Linked DNA regions of Homo sapiens. The protein of the gene in region 3 interacts with the protein of the main gene of each other region in a pairwise test. Each region holds a gene or a part of one and is shown on either strand. Other genes may lie near its edges.

Region 1 (3,500 bases), on a different chromosome or scaffold from region 3:
GTTTGATAAGCTTCGCGAGTTCTTGAGAGTGGAGGAGCAGGCCATTCTGGATGCCATGGCCGAGGAGACAAGGCAGAAGCAACTTCTGGCCGACGAGAAGATGAAGCAGCTCACAGAGGAGACGGAGGTGCTGGCACATGAGATCGAGCGGCTGCAGATGGAGATGAAGGAGGACGACGTTTCTTTTCTCATGGTAAGGAGCTCAGCGTCTGGATTCAGTGACAGGGCCACATGTTCCAGGACCAGCTGGGAGCCATAGCCCACCAGCCCTGGCCAACGTCATCTTCCTGGAGCTTCCTGGGTACTGGCCTGGAGGAGCTCACAAGTAACCTGCTCTGCTTGTGTCATGAAACTAAAAAGACTTATCAGGGCGGAGTTCCTTGAAACCCTGTTATTTCTTCCTCGCTCTTCTTTTTTTTAGAGACAGGGTCTTGCTGTATCACCCAGGCTGGAGTACAGTGGGTGATTATAGCTCAGTGTAACCTCAAACTCATGGGCTCAAGTGATCCTCTCTCCTTAGCCTCCTGAGTAGCTGGGACTACAGGCACGAGCCACCATGCCCAACTAATTTTTTTCATTTTTTACCAGTCAGGTAGGGGTGAGGGGGGTCTCACTATGTTGCCCAAGCTGGTCTTGAATCCCTGGCCTCAAGTGATGCTTCCACCTTGGCCTCCCAGGTAGTTGGACTACTGGCGCACCACTGTGCCCAGCTCCTGTCTCTTCTTTCTTCCTTTCTCTTGCCCTCTCTCTTACTCTCATTTTTTTTCCGGTCTCTACCTTTTAATAAGATGAATTCTTTTAAAATCATTCAATTATTTAAATTTTTTATTTAAATATAATGCCTTGGCTTTCTGTCTTCTTAAGAAAAGGATGATTCCATTCTCTCTTTAAAAAAACAGTATTATTCATTTTTTTTTCCTTTTATTGATTTATTTCCTCCCCATGAGCCAGTGGTCCTTACAAATTTCCTACAGGGAAATTTCTGGGCTCGAAAGCTGGTCTGTAAACTGGCCAGGGTGGTGAGGTGTCTCTTGTACCTGGAAAACAGCTGACTGCTGTGGAAGGGGTGTCGCTGTAGAGTGGAGTGGGAGGCGACAGGGACAGTTATCTGTTCAGGCAGTGTCATCTCCTGGGTGGGTCCTTTAGGAGTTCTCCACCTCACTCAAAGCCTGGAACCATGAAGTCTCCTGTCTCAAAAATGTCCCTGATTATGAAATCATTCTGTGTTCAGAGCTGTCTCTAAAAAGAAAAATGAAGAAAAAAAAAAAAGAAAAAGAAAAATCATTTTGTGGGATCTAAAAGCTGTGTGTCTCGAGGATTCTGTTTAGGGAATTGGGAGTATTGTCTGCCCAGTACTCAGAGTGCTTTCAGGGATGATTTTGGTTTGTGACTCTTTTTTATTTTTTATTAACAACTTTATTGAGATATAATTTACATGCTAAACAATTCACCCATTTAAAATGTACCACTCAGTGATTTTTAGTATATACAGAGTTGTGCAACCATCACGACAATTTTAGAACATTTCATGCCTCCAAAAGCAGCCCTGCTTTAGCTGTCACTCCCCAGTTCCTCCTCCCACATAAAAACTGCTACCGAAATTGAGTCTAACAGAGTGGTAATTACTAGAATTAGCAGCCCCTGGCAACCACTAGTCTACATACTATCTATATGGATTTACCTGTTGTAGACATTTCAAATGCATGGAATTATATAACATGTAACCTTTTGTGACTGCCTTCTTTCAGTCAGCATATTTTGAAACATCATTCATGTTGTAGCATCTATCAGTACTTCATTCTTTTTTATGGCTGAATAATATTCCATGGCATAGATATATAATCATGCACTTCTTAGTGATGGGGATATGTTCTGAGAAATGTATTATTAGGCAGTTTCTTCATTATGCAAGTGTCATGGAGTGTGCTTACAGAAGCCTACATGGTGTAGCCTACTGCACACCTAGATTATATGGAATAGCCTTTTGCTCCTAGGCTACAAACCTGTACAGCACGTTGCTGCACTGAATACTGTAGGCAACTGGAGCCCACTGTTAAGTATTTGTATATCTAAACATAGAAAAAGTACAGTAAAAAACAGTGATATAATCTCATGGGACCATACCATAGTCATATATGTGGTTCCTTGTTGACTGAAACATCGTTACGTTGCACATGGCTATATTATATTTTATTGATTGATTTATCAATTGGTGGTTGCTGTGGTTTAAATATGTTCCCCAAAATTTATGTGTTACAAACTTAATCCCCAATGCAACAGTGTTGGGTGGTGGAGCCTAATAAGAAGTGATTGGGTCATGAGAGCCCTCATGAATGGGTTAATGTTGTTACTGGCAGAGTGGGTTAGTTATTGAGAGAGTGGGCTTGTTATAAAAGTGAGTTTGGGCCCCTCTTGCTCTCTTGCTCTTGGTCTTATGTGTAGTCTCTTGCCCTTCTTCCTTCTGCCATGGGATGACACAGCATGAGGGCTCTCATCAGATGCTGGTGCCATGCTCTTGGACTTTCCAGCTTCAGAACCACGAGTGAAATAAACTATTGTTTATAAATTACCCAGTCTGTGGTATTTTGTTACAGCAACACAAAATGAACTAAGACAGTGGTCATTTGGGTTGTTTCTATTTTGGCTATTATGAATAATATGACTATAAACATTCAGGTAGCAATTTTTATGTGGACATGTTTTCATTTTTCTTGGAAATATGTCTGGGAGTAGATTTGCTGGATCAAATGGTAACTCTAGGTTTAACTATTGGAAGAACTGCTAGGCCATTATTCAGAGCAACTGTATCATTTTATATTCCCATCAGGAGTGTATGTGGATTCCAGTTTCTCCATATTTTTGCCAAAATTTGTTTTTTAAAAATTATAACCATCCTTGTAGGTGTGAAGTGGTATCTCCTTGTGTATTGCATGTCATCACATCCCTGATGGCTAATGACTTGGAACATCTTTTCATGGGCTTTTTGATCATTAGTAGATCTTCCTTGGACAAATGTCTATTCACATCCTTTGCCCATTTTTAATGTGGGTTGTCTTTTTATTGTTGAGTTGTAAGAGTTCTTTATATAGTCTAGATACAAGTTTTTTATCGGTTTTAGCTCTTCATGTAGGTCTTTGATGCATTTTGAGTTTTTTTTTTGTATATGGTATAGTAAGGGTTAGTCCAACTTCACTTTTTTTTTTTTTTTTTTTTTGCATGTCAACATACAGTTTTCCCAGTACCATTTGTTGGAAAGACTATTCCTCCATTAAATCATCTTGGCACTATTGTAAATAATTGATTGATGGTAAATATGAGGGTTTATTTCTGGACTTTCAATTCTATTCCATTGATCTCAGTGCCTGTTTTTATATTAGTACCATACTATCTTGATTACTGTTGATTTGTAGTAAGTCTTGAAATTGGAGATTATGAGTCTTCCAATGTTCTTCTTTTTCAAGATGGTTTTGGCTATTCTGGGTTCCTTGAAATTTTGTGTG
Region 2 (3,500 bases), on a different chromosome or scaffold from region 3:
TCATTTGGGTGGTAAATGTGTGTGTGTAATATTTTTTTCCTAGTGATTTTGACTGTTTAAATGTTTAGCAACTTAAAACATTAAAAATGTGTATTAATTAAAAAAAAATCCTCAGATATGGGTGGATTTTTGAACCAGGCTGAAATGATAGATGCTGTAAAAGACTGATAAATTTTATTTTTATTTTATTTATAGATATATAATATAATATGTATATATATATTTTTTTTTGAGACAGAGTCTGGCTCTGTCACCCAGGCTGGAGTGCAGTGGCATGATCTTGGCTCACTGCAACCTCTGCCTCCCGGGTTTGAGCGATTCTCGTGCCTCAGCCTCCCGAGTAGCTGGGACTACAGGCGCCCGCCACCATGCCTGGCTGATTTTTTTTGTATTTTTAGTAGAGACGGGGTTTCACCATGTTGGCAGGCTAGTCTCGAACTCCCGAGCTCAAGTGATCTGCCCGCCTTACCTCCCAAAGTGCTGGGATTACAGGCGTGAGCCACTGTGACCGGCCAAGAAAACCACTTTTAGTGTCCACAGAATTTTCGTTAATGAACATACCATCATGTCATTAACCCTTTATTTGAGATGGAATCTCACTTTGTCGCCTGGGCTGGAGTGCAGTGGCAATAATTACTTTTAATTAATTAAATTCATTAAAATAATTAAAATTAATTTAATTAATTAAATTAACTTTTAATTTTAAATTATTTTTTTTATTTTAAAAAATTAACTGGGCATGCAGGTATAGTTAATTTTTTATTTTTATTTTTAGCAGAGATGAGGTCTTGCTATGTTGATAGGCTGGTCTTGAACTACTCTTTTTTTTTTTTTTTTTTTTTTTGAGACGGAGTCTTGCTGTGTTTCCCAGGCTGGAGTGCAATGGTGTGATCTCGGCTCACTGCAACCTCCACCTCCTCGGTTCAAACGATTTTCCTTCCTCAGCTTCCTGAGTAGCTGGCATTTCAGGCACCTGCCACCACGCCCGGCTAATTTTTGTTTTTTTTGTGTGTGTGTGTTGTGCTTTTTTTGTTTTTGTTTTTGTTTTGAGATGGAGTCTCACTCTGTTGCCAGGCTGGAATGCAGTGGTGCAATCCCGGCTCACTGCAATCTCCGCCTCCCAGGTTCAAGAGATTCTCCTGCCTCAGCGTCCTGAGTAGCTGAGATTACAGGCACGCACCACCACACCTGGCTAGTTTTTGTATTTTTAGTAGAGACGGGGTTTCACCATGTTGGCCAGCATGGTCTCAATCTCTTGATCTTGTGATCCGCCTACCTCAGCCTCCCAAAGTGCTGGGATTACAGGTGTGAGCCACCGTACTCCGCCTGGTGTTATTTTTTTTTAATTTTATTTTTTGAGGCAGAGTTTTGCACTTGTTGCCCAGGCTGGAGTGCAATGGTGCGATCTTGGCTCACTGAAACCTCTGCCTCCTGGGTTCAAGCGATTTTCTTACTCCAGCCTCCCTAGTAGCTGGGATTATAGGCGCCCGTCACCACGCCCAGCTAATTTTTTGTATTTTTAATAGAAACAGGGTATCTCTATGTTGGCCAGGCTGGTTTCGAACTCCTAACTTCAGGTGATCCACCTGCCTCAGCCTCCCAAAGTGCTGAACGTGAGCCACCACACCCAGCTGGCTTGGTCTTAAACTTCTAAACTCAAGCAATCTTCCTGTCTTGGCCTCTCAAAGTACTGGGATTATAGGTGTGAGCCACTGCGCTGGTCCACCATTTCTTTATTCTTTATTGTTGGTTTTACTGGTTGGTTTGAGCTTTTCTTTTTCTGTGTGTGGTTTTTTTTGTTTTTTTTTTTTTTGAGACAGAGTTTCGCTTTTGTTGCCCAAGCTGGAATGCAGTGGCATGATCTTGGCTCACTGCGACCTCTGCCTCCTGGGTTCAAGCGATTCTCCTGCCTCAGCCTCCCAAGTAGCTGGGATTACAGGCATGCCCTACCAGGCCCGACTAACTTTTTTGTATCTTTAGTAGAGACGGGGTTTCACCATGTTGGTCAGGCTGGTCTCGAACTCTTGATCTCAAGTGATCCACCCGCCTTGACCTCCCAAAGTGCTGGGATTACAGGTGTGAGCCATGGTGCCTGGCTGGTTTGAGCTTTTCTGATATTACATACAATGCTGTAACAATAAACGCGTGACTAAAGTTTTGACTACATCTCTGGGTTTCTTAGATTTCTTATATCAAGAGCAGAGCTACAGACCTTATTTTAAGACCATTGTTAAATTATTTTCTAGGAAATCATGCTAAATTACCCCATTTTCACCCCAGAGAAAAGGCTGTATTTGAAAATTCCTATTTAGCTACACCATCGTGAGCTTTGAATGTTGCATTTCTTTGATCTTGCTGGCATTCTTATAGATGAACAGCACAGCCAGTACTCCAAGTTGCTGCTGGCCTCTAAGGAGCAGGTGCTGCACCGGGTAGTTCTGGAGGAGAAAGTAGCACTAGAGCAGCAGCTGGCAGAGGAGAAGCACACTCCCGAGTCCTGCTTTATTGAGGCAGCTATCCAGGAGCTCAAGGTGAGAGGATGCATTGGAGATGCTAAACCTTTTCACTTTCTCGGCGTTCTGTGGTGAAAACCAGAAATGCTAAACCTTTTCACTCTGTCGGGGGTGAGATGATGGACGCTGGGGATTAAGTTAGTTCCATTCCACATTTAAGACAATAAGCAGAGAATGGCTAAAAAAGCCAATTTGTTTTGGGCTTTGTTTGATGACAGTAGAGAAGGTTTAACCTAGGGCTTTTAAAGCTCTTTCTAGAGCTGAAAGGAGCAAGTCAAAATGATTTTATAACTAATTGTGACAGTGGAGTTTTTTAGATTAGCTATGTTCTTAAAGCAAGTTAGAGTTCTTTGTTTTCTGGGAAAATACTTAAGATTCTATTCTAGAGGTGTTTTGAAAGACATTGTGGAGAAAGTATTATGGCCTGCCCAGTATGCCTTAGGAGTACCTGAAACGGCAAGAATTACACAAGAACAGAATTCCCTGGGTCTTTTATCTTCCACAACAGAGATTCTTGAAGCATCACAACCACTGGTTGTTAGGTCCCACTTTGAGATATTGATTGCATAGGTTAAGCTCAGTAGGCTCAGTAATTTGCATATAACAAGTTCTAGGGTGATTCTGATGGCTGCTCATCCCCAGACCACACTCCTGGAACCACTGATCTAGCTTAGAGCAATAGAAGCCCATATTTATTGAGTGATCAGCATTTGATAGGACTTGTGCTATACACATTTATCTCACTTAAGCTTCTAGTGTGGTAGATAGAACTATCCCCTTTCATGGATGAGGAAACTGAATCCTGGGTTGGGTAATTTGCTAGTAAGGGATGCAGCTGGTATTTGAATTCCCTTCTCCCTGACTCCCAAGGGCTCCTTGGGTAGAGTCCTGTGTATTTAACTTTTGCTTTCTTTCTATAATACGTTGCAGCCGTATTTGTTCAAATGCCATTACAGGCATAAGAAAGGCTACATAGAATTAGAGCTG
Region 3 (3,500 bases):
GGAGCATACCAAAGACAATGCTGACATTTGGTAGATATTAAATAAAATGAATGAATGAATGAACCTGAATTTTTACATTATTGCTATTATGGTATGTATATTGCCATGTGCTTAGCAACAAGGATACATTCTGAGAAATGAGTTGTTACACATTTCATCGTTGTTTGAAAATCATGGAGCGTACTTACACAAACCAAGATGGTATAGCTTAATACATACGAAGGCTATGTTATAGCCTGTTGCTCCTAGGCTACAAACCTATACAACATGTTACTGTACTAAACACTATAGGCCATTGTAACACAATGGTAAATATTTGTGTATCTAAATATAGAAAAAGTACAGTAAAAATTTGGTATTATTATCTTATGGGACCACCATGATATATGCCGTCTGTTGTTGAGTGAAACATTGTTATGTGGCACGTGAGTATGTAAACTATACAGCCTGTTTCTTTTTCACTTAACATTGTCTCTCAAGTAACTTCCATATGGTTATAATCAATATTTTAATAGCTATTCAGTATTCCTTTGAAGGTCAGTGCTGCGCAGTAGCACTTTCTGCATTGATGGAAATGTCCAATATATCTCACCGTTCAATACAGTACCTACTAGTCATATGTGGCTACTGAGCACTTGAAATGTTACCACTGTGACTAGGGAGCTGAATTTTTAATTTTATTTAATTTTAATTATTTTAAATGTAAATAACCACCTGTGACTGTGCCTACAGTGATGGGCAATACAAGTTGAGACCATAATGACTAACTACTTCTTTCTTGATAACAAATTAGATACATTTTCAATTATCACACTGTTATTCAAGGGAAGTGTACTTGAAATGTTGGTTAAAATATTTTGAATTTTAAATACACTAACCACCATCAACTAAAATTTTTATAATCTTAATTTAAATTCAATGTAAATGTATATGCTAGGAAGGAACAAGTTACAGAAAGGAACTTGTAACTTGCTTTTTGATCTATCACAGTTTTATACCGTACATTCATGAGCCTAAGGTTAGGTTTCTTGAGAGTACAGACTATGTCTCATGTTATTTTTTAATCTATTTCCAGATCCATACATAGTAAGCATTTAATACATGCTTATTGAAAGTTGTATATATTGGTTTGTCGTTTTGCTCTAAAAAAAGTTTACTTCTGAAATTATATGTTGTCTGTGTTTTCCTATAGGTTATGCTTTCTAATCCAGTGCTAGAGAATCCAGTGAATTTGGAAGCAGCCAGAATACTGGTTAAAGATGAATCTCTGTACAGAACAATTCTAAGACTTTTCAACAGGCCATTACAAAGTAAGAAGTATCTACTTTTGTTAGGTGCAGTGGCTCACGCCTGTAATCCCAACACTTTGGGAGGCTCAGGTGGGTGGATCATCTGAGGTCCGGAGTTCGAGACCAGCCTGACCAACATGGAGAAACCCTGTCTCTACTAAAATACAGAATTAGCTGGGCGTAGTGGCACATGCCAGTAATCCCACCTACTCGGGAGCCTGAGGCAGGAGAATCACTTGAACCTGGGAGGCAGAAGTTGCGGTGAGCCGAGATCATGCCATTGCACTCTAGCCCGGGCAACGAGAGTGAAACTCTGTCTCAAAAAAAAAAAGAAGTACCTACTTTTTGTTATTTGGCAATTATCAATTATACTTTAAACATTTATAGCATAGTGATCTAGGAAATAACTGTTATATAAGGGAATATTTGAAATATTTTCTGTATCCATTTTCAGTAATGAATGGTATTAAGATCTCTCCTACTGTAACTCTTTGTGAAACCAATCAGTGTGATCCTTTTTTAAAGATCATCAAAGATCTCAAGCTCCGTATCTTTAAATATTATGGTCATATGCATGGATGGTGCCAAATGAAACTAGTCCACCCATCATAAAGGTATGACATCTAATTTTGACTCTTCAATCTGTAATGGACATTTCCCAGACTTCACCTGCAGTACTCCAGATCTTACTGATTTGTACCACTTTTCTTCTTGATTAGCAAGATGTCAATGATTTTTTTCCGGAGAGTTCCCTCCCCAGGAATTCCTTCTAAGAATCCATGTGGAAATAGAGCCTGAAGCTCTTCAGTCTTTCTGCTCCACTGAGCAGTGTTTTCCTGATACCCTTGGTATCCTGCCAGCAGCCTCGTTATGACTCCTAACTCCATTGCCTCCATTGCCCCTGTGCGCTCTCTCTCTCTTTCTCTCCAGGTAGTAGAGCACTGCTTCTGGCTTCTTGTGCACAGAAGGGTTTCCCACAGCTGAGAGCTGGGCTCCTACTGACATAGTTATTTCCTTTATATCCTGCCCCACCTTCTTCTGGTAGCACACAGCAACCTTGCATAGTAGCTGGTATCATTACCTTCCCAATCAACAGGCCTTGATTTCTTATAGTACTTTTTCTCTCAGATTTACATTGCTTCTTTTTCTGTTTCCCTTCCAGGACTCCCAGTCCATTAGCTAGGTCTGTATAATTGTGACCAAGTTCAATTGCTCCTCCTCCACAGGGTTTTTGGGTCTGATACAAATCAAATGGTGTTGATCAAGCATCTTTTCCAGTACCATAGAACTTTATTCTACGACAAAGTTCTTGGGGGAGCTATTTGATCACAAGCTTAAGGTGAAGCAGTAATAGAAAATTCCCTTCTTCTAAGTATGTGTTATATACTCATTTTACCCTTCTCTGGCTTGGTGGGCTTTCATCTGGAATACCAGTAGGCTCCACTTGGAACCTCACATTTCTAAAGGCTGAAGAAACTGTATATATTTAGCCAACAGAAGAAAAGATAAAGGGCAGTTGTAAAAGCTGTTTTCAAATATTCGAAGGGATTTCCTATGGAAAAAGATTTCTTCTGGGTTGCTTCAGAAAACTAACATAGGACAAACACTGAAGTTACACGTCAGTCATACTTTCCCGGGCCTGCTGGGTTGTAGCAGAACTGAAGTTCACATACGCAGGCTTGGCCCTGCCTCGTGTCAGTACATACCTTAAATGTATCAGGGACTTTACTCCGTGATCAGTTGTCTGGAATTAATTTTATTGTCCTAAGTCTAAGCCTGGTATGTGATATGCAGACATGTAAATGTCGCTCATTACCCAAACTTTTCCCCAACATTTGTTATGTTTGCCTACCCTGAATAGCTAGGTCTTTGCCTCAGTGTATTGACAAGAAGACCAAGCTCTAAGCTCAAACCCAGTGTGGAGGTCTGATGACCTTCCCATTTCCTGACAGCCTCCTTTCCTTGTGGCCTGGCCCCTTTTCCTTTCTTAGAGGACTCACATACCCCAGACTGCCTGGGAAAGTCCTGGTATAATTATTCCCAGTACCTCCTTTCACTTGCAGTGTACCAGTTTGAACAAACGATTATCTAGCCAGTTGGGTGCCCAGCTGATCTTTCCTAAAAGCAAATGACTCTATAGTTGTGCCATTCTTAATGGTAAAGTCCATCCAGGTCCCAGTTGGCCAAACATGAGGAAGAATTGTTTGAAAT
Region 4 (3,001 bases), on a different chromosome or scaffold from region 3:
TTCTTTCTACCACCTTTTCCTCGACTACAAACTGATAGATGTACTCTAAACTTGGATATAAGCACTAGCAGCCCTTCAGACATGTTTTAGATTTCAGATTCCTCCTTAGAGGTAACAAGGGGAGAAAGTGCTTCATTCTCTTTTCTAGCACCCTGCACAAATACCTAGAGGCGAACAAACCACACTATCAAAACCTCATGACCACCTCTCAGTGCGAGCTTCAATCTTCCAATTGATGGTGATTCAAGCATAAAATTCCAAAACTTTTATGGAGAAGACTAATTATAAGGGCAATTTTTTATAAGATTTTAGGGCATCTGTCTTGAAACTTTTTTCTTTTAAATAGAGATGGGATGTTGCCCAGGCTGGTCTTGAACTCCTGGGTTCAAGCAGTCCTCCTGCCTCTGCCTCCCAAAGTGCTGGGATTACAGGTGTGAGCCACCATGCCTGGCCATTTGTCTTGTTTTCTATACTATTCAAATCATCAAGTAAGCCAGCTGTTTATAATCCACATGAATTATTTTAATAGTTACTTCGAGATACTCCATGGTACTATACAAAAAGCATGATCATGAACATTAAAGCTGATGGCAGGAAGAATTTATGACGTCCAGAGACAAAATGAATTTAAATCATTTATTTTCACTTATTACTAATCTTACTACAGAGAATAATACAATACTATAATGTATCATCCTCAGTAAATTAATCTTCACTTAGAAAATGTTACTGATAAAATACAACATTTAGAATTTTCATTTAAAAATACAAATTTTATGAAAATATTAAGAATTTTTAGGATGGGAATTATAAAAGTCAATGCTGAACAAAATTCTACTTTTAGATAGTATGTATCTTAAAATATTATGAAAAATATTCTTTATTCTGAAAACAATGTCAGGAAAGAATACCTGAGTTCTCTAAAACCACTAGTTCTAATTTCAAATTGCTGTTTTGGTAACATAAAGAAAACACATTTACAATTTAACACTGCAGTTACCTGTCAAATAATTAGAATAGAATAAATGTTGCATATACATTAGGTTGAACATTATATATATTTTAAAACACAGGGTGGTTTCATTTAATCTTTTGGTGAATTGGATCATAAGTCCTACATTCTAAAACCATCTGGAAACATTTTTCTGGTAGCCCTGAAAATCCATTCTGATGCCTTATCAGTAGTCATTATGACCAAATGACATTAGTATTTTGTGGCCTTGATAGTTTATACAACTTAATATATTTGAAGGTGTGATGAAGTGGCTCCATCCTTCCATTTGTTTATATGGTCTGAAATCACAGTTCTGCAGAGTGGACATGTTTTCTCTCTGTTAAACCATAAGGTCATGCACTCTTCACAAAATATATGCTGTAATGGAATTAAGAATTAGATTTGATATTTGATAATCATTTTAAATCCATCACATTGTAGGGAATGAAAGGGATTCTTTTTTTTTTTTTTTTGAGATGGAGACTGAAGTCTTGCTCTGTCACCCAGGCCGGAGTGCAATGGCACCATCTCGGCTCACTGCAACCTCCGCCCCCGACTGGTTCAAGTGATTCTCCTGCCTCAGCCTCCCAAGTTGCCGGGATTACAGGTGACCACCACCACCATGCCCAGCTAGTTTTTTTATTTTTAGTAGAGACAGGGTTTCACCATGTTGGTCAGGCTGGTCTTGAACTCCTGACCTCAGGTGATCCACCCACCTCAGCCTCCCAAAGTTCTGGGATTACAGGCGTGAGCCACTGTGTCCAGCCTGAAAGGGATTTTGAAGAGCACTAATCCCCTCATTTTACAATTGTGAAAATGGAGAACGTATGAGACATTCAAGAAGACAAAGAGCAGTATGATTGGTAGAGCCACTAGTGTTCTGGCTGTACCATCCATTTAACCATAAAAGCTATCCTTAGGTGACACCTTTAAGATTAAGTATGATAACTGCTTAAGGTCTTTGAGTTACTAGTAACTGCCATAAAGTATAGGAAAGGGCCACAATCCAGTAACAAATGTCAGTATTGTTCTACATGGCTAGTATCCAATTATAAAATAGCCTGTTTTTTAATCACTTTGGTATTCAATCTGCCAGTTGAATTATTTTTTCCCCTTCATACGCTCCTCTGCATAAAAATTATCAGAACATAAGGGACAAAACTTAGCCAATCCACTAGTATGTACCCTGAATGCTACCTTCCACTAAACACTAGATTTTTTTTTTTTTGCCTTACAGCAAACATAAATTTGACTTTTGCAAGTCACAGAGAACTGTTGTATTTAGGTTTTTAAATTTAAAAATGTAATTACCTGACAAATGAGAAGAATTGGCTTCTGAAATTCAGCTTGACATATTGAACAAATATCATCCACATCTGAACACTGTCTCTTGCTGGCAGCCACTCCATAACTCTATGAAGATAGTAAGTTCTGTTCATCTACAAATTTCTTTCTTTCCTGTTCCTCAAATTACATAAGTAATGCTGTACTTCTCAAATCTCCCTGGAACCAGGCATTTGAAAAACTTCCCAAAGGATACAAACATCTCAAAGCTGAGCCATATACAGAACCACCTCTTGAGTGCACCAAAATGAAATCATTAAATAATACATAATAGGATTTTGAAAGATTGTTAGATCTACTAGCTTTACAAAGGATGATAGTGCTTCAAATTCAACATAACTGGCTTAAGAGACTAAGCAATCTGAAATGTAACTATTATAAAATCTATAGCCATGTATTATTTGACCCAGGACTGCCAAATTGAGCTTATTACCTGCAGCAGTGGTTCATAAAGTCAATCCAGCCAGAGGTTGGCTGGTTGAATGTAACTCATGTGGAAAGCTTGCTTTAAAAATAGATTTCTCTGTTCCACACAATATCAATTCACTAGGACCAGACATATTGGGATGTGACCCAGTAATCTATTATTTGAAAGGTCTCCAAGTGAGTGCAATATGAAGAAGACTTAGGGACCACTGAAGAATTTTCTGCCACTAGGTCTAA
Region 5 (3,974 bases), on a different chromosome or scaffold from region 3:
TCTAATTCCACAATATTTTCATCACCCAAGAAACACCATATCTATTAGCGGTATCTATTAGCAGTCACTTCCCATTCCCTCCTGCCTTAGTTTCTGGCAACCACTAAACTACTTTTTGTCTCTATGGATTTGCCTATTCTGGACATTTCATATAAATTAAAAACAATATATGGCTTTTTGTGTTTGACTTTTTTTTTTTTTTTTTTGAGACGGAGTCTCGCTGTTACCTAGGCTGGAGTGCAGTGACTCACTGTAACCTCTGTCTCCTGGGTTCAAATGATTCTCCTGCCTCAGCCTCCCTAGTAGCTGGGACTACAGGTGCCCGCCACCATGCCCGGCTTATTTTTTGTATTTTTAGTAGAGACGGGGTTTCACCATGTTGGTCAGGCTGGTCTCGATCTCCTGACCTCGTGATCCACCCGCCTCGGCTTCCCAAAGTGCTAGGATTACAGGCGTGAGCCACCGCACCCGGCCTTCTAAGGGTTTTATAGTTTTAGTTCTTACATTTAGGTCGTTGATCCATATTTAGTTAATTTTTGCATATGGTGTGAGGAAGGAAGTGTATAATTTTAATTCCTGCTTAGCCTGACGATAATCATGTGACCCTTGGTAAGTTCTTGCACCTAAGTCTCAATTTCCTTATTTGTAAAGTGAGAATAACAAATGGTAGCTAAATCATAAGATTACAGTGAAGATAGAAAATTTACGTAGAGCATTTATCACACTGCTTGAAGCATCCTAACTACTCGATAAATGCGGTCGGTGTTACAGTTATAACATGAGCGATGAATGCGTGCTTCCACAGTGGAGTGCCAGAAAGACCGGCAGCATTTCTGAGAAGGTAAACGGGAGGAAGTAGGCTTGCTTAGTCCACTTGGAGAAGCAGGTCTGGGATTGTTGTGAGAGTCTCTGCCCTAGGTAGACCACTGCCTCATGATCCCCTCTAGAGATTGGTAAAAATTCGAATTCTCGGGCCCCATCAGAACTACTGAAAAGAGCCTCCTGTGAGCACAGGGCTCGCAGTAAGTGGGGGTGACGGTGGTCGCGCCGGCAGCGCCGCCTTGGGCCTGCGGGAGGCGCCCGAGAGGCAGGGGCGACCACGGCGGCTGCGCAGAGTCCTCCCTATGCCGGCGGTCGCGCCAGCGGGATCCGCCTGGCTCAGCTGACAGCTCCCGAGAACGGAAGAGGCGGCGCGCCGGTTGAGCAGGGCGTCTCTAGGCCTGGTCGGCTGGCGGCGGTGAGTGGGCCCCAGGCAAGGGCGGAGGGCGGAACTTTGGGGTTCGGCACTGCCGGGCGGCCGGAAGGTACGGTGGGGATAGCTCTCTGGGCGCGCGAGGCAGAGAAGGGGACCGGGCTGGGACTGTACACTGGGCCTCAGTCCCTCAAATCCGGGACCGGGCGTCCGCAGCTCGGCTGGCCGGGACTCCCTTCGGGACGCTGAGGAGGAAGGGGAAGGTGTGGGCCCTGCTCCTTCGGGACGCCCCAGGCTGGCCAGCAGCTCACACATCCGCATTGCGCCCTCTGATCCCAGCGTTGGGGCGGATAGCTAGCGTTGGGCCTGCCCCTGTTTTGGGGCAGTCGCCCAAACGACGCCGCACGCCTAGTGGCGAGCTGAACCCAGACTAGGACACCCGAAGACCAAATGGATAGAGTGAGAAGGAAATGGGGGTTAGCAACCTGAATTGAGGTACTGGATTCCAAGTGACAGCTTCACAAGCTGAAATCTTGTAGGGTAGGTCATGAGGAACTGTTGAAACTGCTTGGAGTAGAAGTTCTTAGCCCTGGCTGCATATTGGAATCACCTGGAGAACTTGGAAAACTACTGAGGCCTGAATTAATTGTTCTAGGGTGTGGCCTGGGTATTGAGATTTTAAAAAACAGCTCCTCAGAAGATTCTAATGTGCAGTCAGATGGAGAACACTAACCTAAAACCATAAACTGCATGAATGAATCTCTCATCCCATTTGCAAATGTTTTAACAGGAAGAAACAAAAAGCTTAATTCAATTAGCACCATATACTCCCACCTAGTAAAATAAGACAATGTGAAAGGACCTAATACAGTACATAGTAGGTGCTCAATTAATGTAAATTGATTCTGAATCTCATTCTTATCTCATTTGGGAGTTACACATCCGAGAATCTGGTTTTTAATTATGGTTTTGTATATAGTATTTTTGCATATAATTTTAGGGTGTTGATAGGATTCTCCGTAGCCCATCTATAGACCACACTCCCTTTTCCCCTCACCCCAGTGAAGAAGCCTAGCTCTAAAGCATTTAGAATAAAACTTAAAAGTTTGTGTTTGTGTACTCTTGTTTTGTTTAAGTATTTTTCTGTTACCAAAATTAACCTTGAGTGCCACTGGCAGGCTTAATTCATGAACAAGAGAGGAAAAACTGGAGGGGAGTGGCAAATGAAGGAATACAAGAAGCAGAAGAGGAAAGGAGAAAAAAACAAAACAAAAAACAAACTGAAGAGATTGTTTGTTATGGGGCATGGTGTCCTGTACTTTCATATGACCTTGGTGTTCCTCCTTAGCTCCTCCCATAGCTGAGGGCAGACAGATAAAAAGTCCTCAGTCATTGCTGGGGACATGCAAATACTCCTTTAACCACATGGCTCAGTTAGCCTGCCCTAGGAGAGTAACATGCACTTGTAGATTAGGATTGGCTATATGTTAGGATATGTTTGACTTAAGCAGTGATCATGGAAATTCAGAATTTTAATTTGGAGAGGGTCCTAACACCATCTTTTGTATTTCTTTTCTGCAGATGGCAGGATTTTCATAATATATGTAGTATGAGTTCCACATCTTGGCCTCTTACCCAGCTTCAGCAGTCTCAGCTCCACCAGTTAGAGAATAAATGGGATTTGCATGAACTCCACTCTGAGCTGAAATACAGACTGCGGTGTTAATATCCTTTTCTTCTGATTGTTATTAACAGGTACTAACTGACCTCAAGTAGAACATGTAATTGTGTCTTAGATAGGGATGCAGCTTAAGCAGAGCCATGAACTAACATCTCCTAGAAAAAAAGTGTTTTTTGAAAATGAAATCATTTTTAATTTCATAGTATGACCTTTTAAAATGTAAAAAATCCTAACTTTTTACTTATGTACATTTTAATTAAAAATATTTTAGTTGTGAGGGAGGATATTTGCAAATGCAATTGTAGTTCAATATTTTAATTGACTGGTAGTTTTGTTTTATTAAAATGATTTTTGTAAATTCTCATTGCATATTTTTTTCACATTTAAATTATCTGAAATTGCTGTATCTTTCAGTTGATGCTATTTTAAAAAACATTGATTCATACTTTATTTTTTGAGACAAGGTCTTGCTCTGTCCCCCAGGCTGGAGTGCAGTGGTGCAAACACGGCTCACTGCAGCCTCAGCATCCAAGGCTCAAGCGATCCTCCTGCCACAGTCTCCTGAGTAGCTGGGACTACAGGCACACACCACCACACCTGGCTAATTTTTTATAGAGACAGGATCTTGCTATGTTGCCAAGGCTGATCTCAAACTGCTGGCCTCAAGTGATCCTCCTGCCTTGGCCTCCCAAAGTGCTGGGATTACGGGCATGAGCCACCATATCCAGCCAGTTCATACTTTAATTGTAGCTAATTTCTTTTTCTTTCTTTCTTTCTTTCTTTCTTTCTTTCTTTCTTTCTTTCTTTCCTTTCTTTCTTCTTTCTTTCTTTCCTTTTTTTTTTTTTTTTTTTTTTGGAGACAGAGTCTGTCTCTGTCACCCAGGCTGGAATGCAGTGGTGCAATCTCAGCTCACTGCAACCTCTGCCTCCTGGATTCTAGTGATTCTCTAGTCTCGTGCCTCAGCCACCGAGTAGCTGGGATTACATGCGTGTACCACAATGCCCGGCTAATTTTTTTATTTTTAGTAGAGATGGGGTTTTGCTGTGTTGGCCAGGCTAGTCTTGAACTCTTGGCCTCAAGTGATCTGCCTGCCTTGGTCT
Region 6 (3,500 bases), on a different chromosome or scaffold from region 3:
GGTAAATTCCTTAGTTCTCTATTTGGGCTAACAGATATTTGAAGATAAAAGAAGGATGAGGAAACATTCAGGAGGAAAGTGACATAAAATATATAACTGTCACTTTAAGACAGAAAAATTATGGTTTTCTTTTTCAGTATTAAAATAATGATTGGTTATTCTTACTGGTATTTGAAAGATCTTTGAATGCTACCAACCATAATATAAAGATTATGTTATTGCAGGGACCAGCTCTCAAACACCAATTCCTACTATAATAAAAAAAAGAAATTTTTGATATTGTCATATAACATAATACATTTAACCCTGCTTCCTTCATGGTTGTGGTAACAAGGATGTACAAATGTCCCAGGACCATACTGGGGTAATCTGACGGTGACAGTACCTTGAAAAATAAATACACTTTAGGACGTAGCACCCTTATAGAAAATGGTCACTAATGATTGTATGATGACATAAAAACGGGAAGGAGTGGTGGCCGATTTAGTTTTAAATCATTTAGTTGTTGTTTTGTCCTTCCTCAGTTCAGCTGTAAAACCAAGGCTTCCCACTGTTTAGATGCTTTCCAAACAGCTAAAAGAAGGCGTGACTAAGCACAGAAGGTGGTGAGAACAGCAGGTGCAGCCATCACTTCCTTCACAAATTTGTTAATAAAAATGCATTCTTTCAATACACATTAATGGAACACCTATGGCGGGCCAGGCACTCTGCTTAGTGCTAGGTATGCCAGAAAAATGAAGTCAAAAGCCTGCTCCAGGGTGACTACAACACCCACAAGGAAAGGGGAGGAAGACCTGGCCGACAGCCTTACATGGTCCTGGGGCAGGTGCAAGAATGCTGCTGTGAGAGCGAGGATCTCTTCTGCCTGGGGTGGTCAGAAAGCCTGATACTGAGCCAAACCTGGAAATGGTGGTAGGACTGTGGCTGGTGTGCACGCATTCAAGGGGAGAAGTGGTGAATGTGTTCCAGTCAGAGGCGGCAGCCTGTGTATTGCTATTTCCATGACCATTTACTGAAGGGGCTACTGAAAACAGGAGGTAGAACAAGCATTTGCCATCTGTCTTGCCTCCAGGATGAATTACTCTTATCTTAGGGAACCAAGACCTATTATATTAAGACAACTTTATCTCGACCTTCTGAGCCTCTAGTCAATTTATGGATGGTACACAGGATACCACTGGCTACTGTACACATGTCCTATGAAAAGCCATGGGCAGAACCAAGAAGAGGGAGGGCCTGGAACTATTTTTTTAATGTAAGACCTACTCCCTAGTTTGGATGTTGCTGACCGAGAGCAAAAGATGCCAAGAAGTAGTACGGGCAAATAAGCTTCAATTTAAAAAAAAAATTTTTTTTTGAGACAGTCTCGCTCTGTCTCCAGGCTGGAATGCAGTGACACCACCTCGGCTCACTGCAACCTCCACCTCCCAGGTTCAAGTGATTTTTCTGCCTCAGCCTCCCAAGTAGCTGGGACTACAGGTGTGCGCCACCATGCGCAGCTAATTTTTGTATATTTAGTACAGACTGGGTTTCACCATGTTGGCCAAGATGGTCTTGATCTCTTGACCTTGTGATCTGCCCGCCTCAGCCTCCCAAAGTGCTAGGATTACAGGCGTGAGCCATCACGCCCGGCCATAAGCTTCAATGTTGACTGCCTTGTGTCACGCATCAAATCAGCCAGAGAGGCATATAGAAACATCAGTTTTCCTCCTGACCATGTGGCCACAAGTAAAATATGAAAGAGGCAGAATTTGGGAATGTATAAGCAAGAATGGTAAGAAAATGACTTGGACCTCCCTCTTTGCACCAAAATAAGAGGGCAGTTGAGGGGAAACAGACAGCTACAATAAAGGCTGAAGGAGAGAGAGAGAGAGAGTGTGTGTGTGTGTGTGTGTGTGTGTGTGTGTGAACATTCCACCCACGGGTAAGTGGAGGAATACTTTTTTTTTTTTTAGTGTGTGTGAACATTCCACCCATGGGTAAGTGGAGGAATACTTTTTTTTTTAGTGATGTAATCTCGTTCTATTGCCCAAGCTGGAGTGCAGTCCCATGATCATAGCTCATTGCAGCCTCAACCTCCTGAGCTCAAGCAATCCCCCCACCTCAGCCTCCCAAGTAGCTGGGACTACAGGTATACACCACCACACCTGGCTAATTTCATTTTTTAAATTTTTTTGTAGAGATGGAATCTCATTTTGTTGCCCAAGCTGGTATCGAACTCCCAGCTTCAAGTGATCCTCCTGCCTTGGCCTCCCAAAGTGCTGGGATTACAGGCATGAGCTACTGCGCCCACCCTGTATTTTTATTTTAAATGAAAAATAAATATAAAGGAAATTATGAAAAACAGTGTACAACTGACACAATGTCCTATTTTGTCATACTTAAAAACTGAGAATATTGGTTTCTCAGAATTGTTCAGTATTTCATTTCTCCAGTTTATCAAAGAAATGGAGAGAATTTGGCATGTCTCATCTGCAGTGACATTTCAGTCTCACGTTCATGCTTACTTACTGCCTCCCTCCTCAGGTGGCTTCGATGCTAACTGTCATGGTCTAAGCTGTTCTGGACAATGCAATGTGGCCATGTCTCTAAAAGGAATGAAACATTAAAAAAAAAAATCATTATATACCATTTAAAGCTATCTGGGTCCTCACTGGAAAAAGACAGATTAAATATACATTGAGAAGGAAAAAAATTTTTTTTCAAAACAAGTATATATGCATATATAGAGGATATATGCTCAAGCCTGATTGTCTTTCACTACAACTGTAGGATTTCAAATAGGATTCCCTTTTGTAGTGGTATCTCAGTGACAGTTTTAAAAAAATAATCGTGGGCCGGGTACAGTTTAAAAAAAAAAAAAATCGTGGGCTGGGCGTGGTATCTCATGCCTGTAATCCCAGCACCTTTGGAGGCTGAGGCAGGAGGATTGCTTGCGTTCAGGAGTTTCAGACCAGCCTGGGCAATGCAGGGAGACCTCATCTTTACTAAAAATAAAAAAATTAGCCAGGCATGGTGGCACATGCCTATAGTCCCAGCTACTCAGGAGGCTAAGGTGGAAGGATTGCTTGGGCCCAGGAGGTCGAGGCTGCAGGAAGCTACGATCATGCCACTGCACTGCAAGACCTTTTTTCAAAAAAAATAAAAAAAAATAAAAATAATAATAATAATATATGGTGACATCAAAGAAGATTTGGATAAATGAAGTTCTGCTAAAAAGACAATAATAATTCCAAATGTAGATACAAAAACTATAAAAATGTACAAAATAAACTAGCATAAATGATACTTTCTGCACACAAAACATTACCGTTTGTCTACAGATTGGACAACTGATTGCCCCAAGCCATGAACCATATCGCCAGTAAGCAATAATGCAGGCACCTAATAGACAAAACAAAACAAACACATAACCCATTAATATTGATGTTTTAAAGTCCACATATCCTCAGAAAGATTCAACTATTTGAAATATTTTAACAGTACCACGTTATTTAAAA
Region 7 (3,500 bases), on a different chromosome or scaffold from region 3:
TTTTTTCAATGTAATGTGCAACTAACAGTGTTATAGTGGTACTGGAGATAGAATCAGTTAACAATAACAACCACCACCAAAATCCCTTTCCTCATTAAGCTTACATTGTAGCGTTGTTGTCCAATATTTTTTTGTTTTGTTTTCCGTGGTTCATTTCAAAGCCAAGCCATCTGTTTAACGGCAGCATTTACCTAGTGCTTAGTCTAGTTAATACATTTTGCTACTTTATTTTTTATTTTTCTAATTATTTGTATTGATGTTCTACTAGCATCTTTATTGTTTTTAATCAGTAGGTGTTAAATGAGTTGGGGTTTCTTGGAATAGTTATTGCCAAAAATATTATATGGTGAAGAGAGGGCCAGGGAGGACTTCCAGATTTGCTATTTTTTTGTTTGCTTGCTTGCTTTTTTTGTCTTACAATGCAAAGCTTTCTTTCCTTTTTTTTCTGCTACCACACAGCCTTTTTGCAAGGAAGTTTGTAATGTGATAGTTTTAGTATGAAATCTGGCAATACTGCTTACTTGATAATTCCAATGAAAGTGACAGTGTAGGGTTTTCATTGTTGGTGAGCTCTATTTGTTCATTATTTTTTCTCCTTCTTGAATTATTTCTAGGAGAAGATGAAAATACTCACTTAGCCATGCTCATACTAGAAATCTTGACTGACTTTGGTATTATTTTATTTCCACTATAACTTAATTTTTTTCCTTTTGCAGTTATAGAAAGTTGATATCTCTGAAAATAACTGATACTGATATAAGACCGAAGATCAGTTTAAAATTTAATACAAAAGGTATTATTTTATTTTTATATGCCTTCTGTTGAAAAGTATGTTAAAATTTTTGACTTCTCTGTCAACTTTCATGCCATTAACAACCACGTCTTTACTGTGTTTGTCATTCACTGAGCTTGGGTTTATACCAGCAAGCAGCGCTTGGTGTAGGCTGGAAATCACAGACAGGAAGATCAGCACATCTATGGATCTCACATTACCTTGACATCCTATAGAGAGGCATGCTAGGTCTGGTGCATAGCTGTGACTATACCGTGGGATTGTGTTCCAGCAGAGGTTTTCTACCAACTGTTCCTTCCCTTGCTGCATTCCTTCTTAATAGAGCAAGCATTAGAGTACCCTTACATGAAAGGAATGAACATTTTGAGTTTGAGGCCAAGTTTTGAGGCTAAGTAATCTAAACTAAGCTGCCAGCTTCTTAGGAGTGTGCTAGGAAATGTCCTGCCCAGAACCTGGAGGCCTTAATTAAGGGACCCTGGGCCCATAGAAGAATAGTTTGGTGGCAGTCCAGCCAACTTTTTATTTGGTAACCCAAAGAAAGCTCCCTGTGTCATTAGCTTTTTAACTTGCCTCCACAATGTATATCAAGTATTTCAAGCAAAAACGTTAATTTAATAAATCTCTTGAAACATAGAATCTTGAAGGATAAAATAATAAGGCTGCATTTTGTGACAAACACATATTTTGATATCCATATAACACCAAATGCCATTATATACTAAATTATTAGTACTTTCTAATTCACTTCAGCCGACTTTTCTCCTTTGAAAGCACTGTTAAAACAGGAAAATACCAAATAGTTCAGTTTCATGCCTTATTCCATGTTATTGATGAAATACCTACTTATCTTTTTTTGAGGGGGTGAGAAGATGAGGTTTATTAGATCACAGTTTCTCAAGCATTATACATATATTTGAAATATCCGGCAATTTTGTTAAAAGGCAGATTTCAGTAGGTCTAGAGTGGGGCCTGAGACTGTGCTTTCCTAACAGGCTTTCAGGTGGATGCTTGATGCTGCTGGTCTCTGGGCTACCCTTTGAGTAGCAAGGAGCTAGATCTTTTGGCATTTCTTGATATAGATCTGAGCTATCTAGTATAGCAGTCCCTAGCTGTATGTGGCTACTTAAATTTAAATTAATTAAAATTAAATTTAAAATTCAGTTCCTTAGTCACCCAAACCGCATTTCCAATGCTCAGTGAGTATTAGTGCAAATATAAAACATTTTATCACATGACGTTCCATTGGGCAGTGCTGATTAGGATAAAGTATAATTGTTTAAGTAAAGTATAGTTAGACATTGACAATTAGCATTCTTGGCAAATTTCAGAATTTTTAAAGACCTAATACTGTGATGCCATGTTGTTGCTAAAGGTCATTTACTTGAACAAAACCTTGGATGACTGAAAGACTTCTGTGGTGATTAGTCTTTGTTATTACTTTTGCTTGGGAACATGTTGTTTTTGTTTAGGTTTTTTGACAGGCAGAAAGCAGCATGCTAATTGAGCACTGGCTGTGGCAAAGCACTGTACTATCCTTCATTCTTTTGGAATAGTTTTTATCCTACAGGAGCTTAGGATACAATGTGAGAGACCAAATAGAAAATGAGCATTAATGTGGAATGTCTTGACTTCTCAAAATTTATTTTCAGATGAAATGCCTATCTTCAAGCTTGATTATAATTATTTCTATCATCTGCTTCATATAATTATTATTTCTGGTACTGACATTGTTCGACAAATATTTGATGAGGCTATGCCACCTCCTCTTTTGAAAAAAGAGCTTCTTATACACAAGAATGTGCTGGAATCCTACTACAACCATCTTTGGACCAATCATCCTTTGGGTGGATCATGGCATCTGCTTTATCCTCCTAACAAGGAGTTACCGCAATCCAAACAGTTTGACTTATGCCTCCTGTTAGCTCTTATAAAACATTTAAATGTGTTCCCTGCACCCAAAAAAGGATGGAATATGGAACCGCCATCTTCTGACATCTCTAAATCTGCAGACATCCTGAGACTGTGCAAATACAGGGATATCCTCCTTAGTGAGATTTTGATGAATGGTCTCACTGAGTCACAGTTCAATTCAATTTGGAAAAAAGTTTCAGATATTCTTCTGCGCCTTGGGATGATGCAAGAGGATATTGACAAAGTGAAGGAGAATCCCATTGAGAATATCTCCCTTGATTACCATCAGCTATCTGTCTACCTAGGCATACCAGTACCAGAAATCATACAGAGGATGTTATCCTGCTATCAACAAGGTACTAAATGATTATTTACTTCAGCCAATAAACTTCCATTGATTGAATGTCTGCTCTGTGCCAGGCACAGTGCAAAGGGCAAGAGATTCAGTGAGCTCATGGTTTTGGGAAAATGGACTCATCAGGAAGGTAATAGAAATTATAGTGCTAGAGATGTTTCCAGAATACCATGGGAAATCCTAGGCTAAAGAAGTCCAAAAAAGCTTTCTGGAGAGTATCATAGTTAAAGAACTATTAATGGTGTGCAGAAGTTAGCCAGGTGAAGCAGACTGAGAAGAATGTTTCAGAGGGAAACAAAAATAAAGGTATAGAAACATAAAAATATACTGCAGGCAACTAAAAAATGTTGGCTTCATTGAGATTAAAGTAGGGGAGAGTTCATAGAGTACATTCAAGAGGATTTTTTTGTCACATTAAGGAGTCTGCATTTTTCAGAAAGA

Evidence for each region.
Region 1: the proteins of UBE2U (region 3) and TRIM35 interact in a two-hybrid assay, tested with the Homo sapiens proteins (one large-scale study listed by BioGRID and IntAct).
Region 2: the proteins of UBE2U (region 3) and RNF10 interact in a two-hybrid assay, tested with the Homo sapiens proteins (one large-scale study listed by BioGRID and IntAct).
Region 4: the proteins of UBE2U (region 3) and RNFT1 interact in a two-hybrid assay, tested with the Homo sapiens proteins (one large-scale study listed by BioGRID and IntAct).
Region 5: the proteins of UBE2U (region 3) and RNF14 interact in a two-hybrid assay, tested with the Homo sapiens proteins (one large-scale study listed by BioGRID and IntAct).
Region 6: the proteins of UBE2U (region 3) and RNF170 interact in a two-hybrid assay, tested with the Homo sapiens proteins (one large-scale study listed by BioGRID and IntAct).
Region 7: the proteins of UBE2U (region 3) and DZIP3 interact in a two-hybrid assay, tested with the Homo sapiens proteins (one large-scale study listed by BioGRID and IntAct).

The regions. Positions count from the first base shown.
Region 1 is NC_000008.11:27,290,773-27,294,272, reverse strand, and holds part of TRIM35 (E3 ubiquitin-protein ligase TRIM35), read left to right. Parts: coding exon 1-193; intron 194-3,500. UniProt on the Homo sapiens protein: E3 ubiquitin-protein ligase that participates in multiple biological processes including cell death, glucose metabolism, and in particular, the innate immune response.
Region 2 is NC_000012.12:120,558,356-120,561,855, forward strand, and holds part of RNF10 (E3 ubiquitin-protein ligase RNF10), read left to right. Parts: intron 1-2,370; coding exon 2,371-2,531; intron 2,532-3,500. UniProt on the Homo sapiens protein: E3 ubiquitin-protein ligase that catalyzes monoubiquitination of 40S ribosomal proteins RPS2/us5 and RPS3/us3 in response to ribosome stalling.
Region 3 is NC_000001.11:64,213,623-64,217,122, forward strand, and holds part of UBE2U (ubiquitin-conjugating enzyme E2 U), read left to right. Parts: intron 1-1,192; coding exon 1,193-1,310; intron 1,311-1,814; exon of another isoform or gene 1,815-1,903; intron 1,904-3,500. UniProt on the Homo sapiens protein: Catalyzes the covalent attachment of ubiquitin to other proteins.
Region 4 is NC_000017.11:59,951,740-59,954,740, forward strand, and holds the end of RNFT1 (E3 ubiquitin-protein ligase RNFT1), read right to left. Parts: intron 2,408-3,001; coding exon 2,306-2,407; intron 1,373-2,305; coding exon 1,238-1,372; 3' UTR 501-1,237; downstream 1-500. UniProt on the Homo sapiens protein: E3 ubiquitin-protein ligase that acts in the endoplasmic reticulum (ER)-associated degradation (ERAD) pathway, which targets misfolded proteins that accumulate in the endoplasmic reticulum (ER) for ubiquitination and subsequent proteasome-mediated degradation.
Region 5 is NC_000005.10:141,967,931-141,971,904, forward strand, and holds the start of RNF14 (E3 ubiquitin-protein ligase RNF14), read left to right. Parts: upstream 1-1,174; 5' UTR 1,175-1,237; exon of another isoform or gene 1,238-1,850; intron 1,851-2,773; 5' UTR 2,774-2,947; intron 2,948-3,974. UniProt on the Homo sapiens protein: E3 ubiquitin-protein ligase that plays a key role in the RNF14-RNF25 translation quality control pathway, a pathway that takes place when a ribosome has stalled during translation, and which promotes ubiquitination and degradation of translation factors on stalled ribosomes.
Region 6 is NC_000008.11:42,862,106-42,865,605, forward strand, and holds part of RNF170 (E3 ubiquitin-protein ligase RNF170), read right to left. Parts: intron 3,385-3,500; coding exon 3,311-3,384; intron 2,589-3,310; coding exon of another isoform or gene 2,546-2,588; exon of another isoform or gene 2,508-2,545; intron 1-2,507. UniProt on the Homo sapiens protein: E3 ubiquitin-protein ligase that plays an essential role in stimulus-induced inositol 1,4,5-trisphosphate receptor type 1 (ITPR1) ubiquitination and degradation via the endoplasmic reticulum-associated degradation (ERAD) pathway.
Region 7 is NC_000003.12:108,641,722-108,645,221, forward strand, and holds part of DZIP3 (E3 ubiquitin-protein ligase DZIP3), read left to right. Parts: intron 1-716; coding exon 717-793; intron 794-2,442; coding exon 2,443-3,060; intron 3,061-3,500. UniProt on the Homo sapiens protein: E3 Ubiquitin ligase proteins mediate ubiquitination and subsequent proteasomal degradation of target proteins.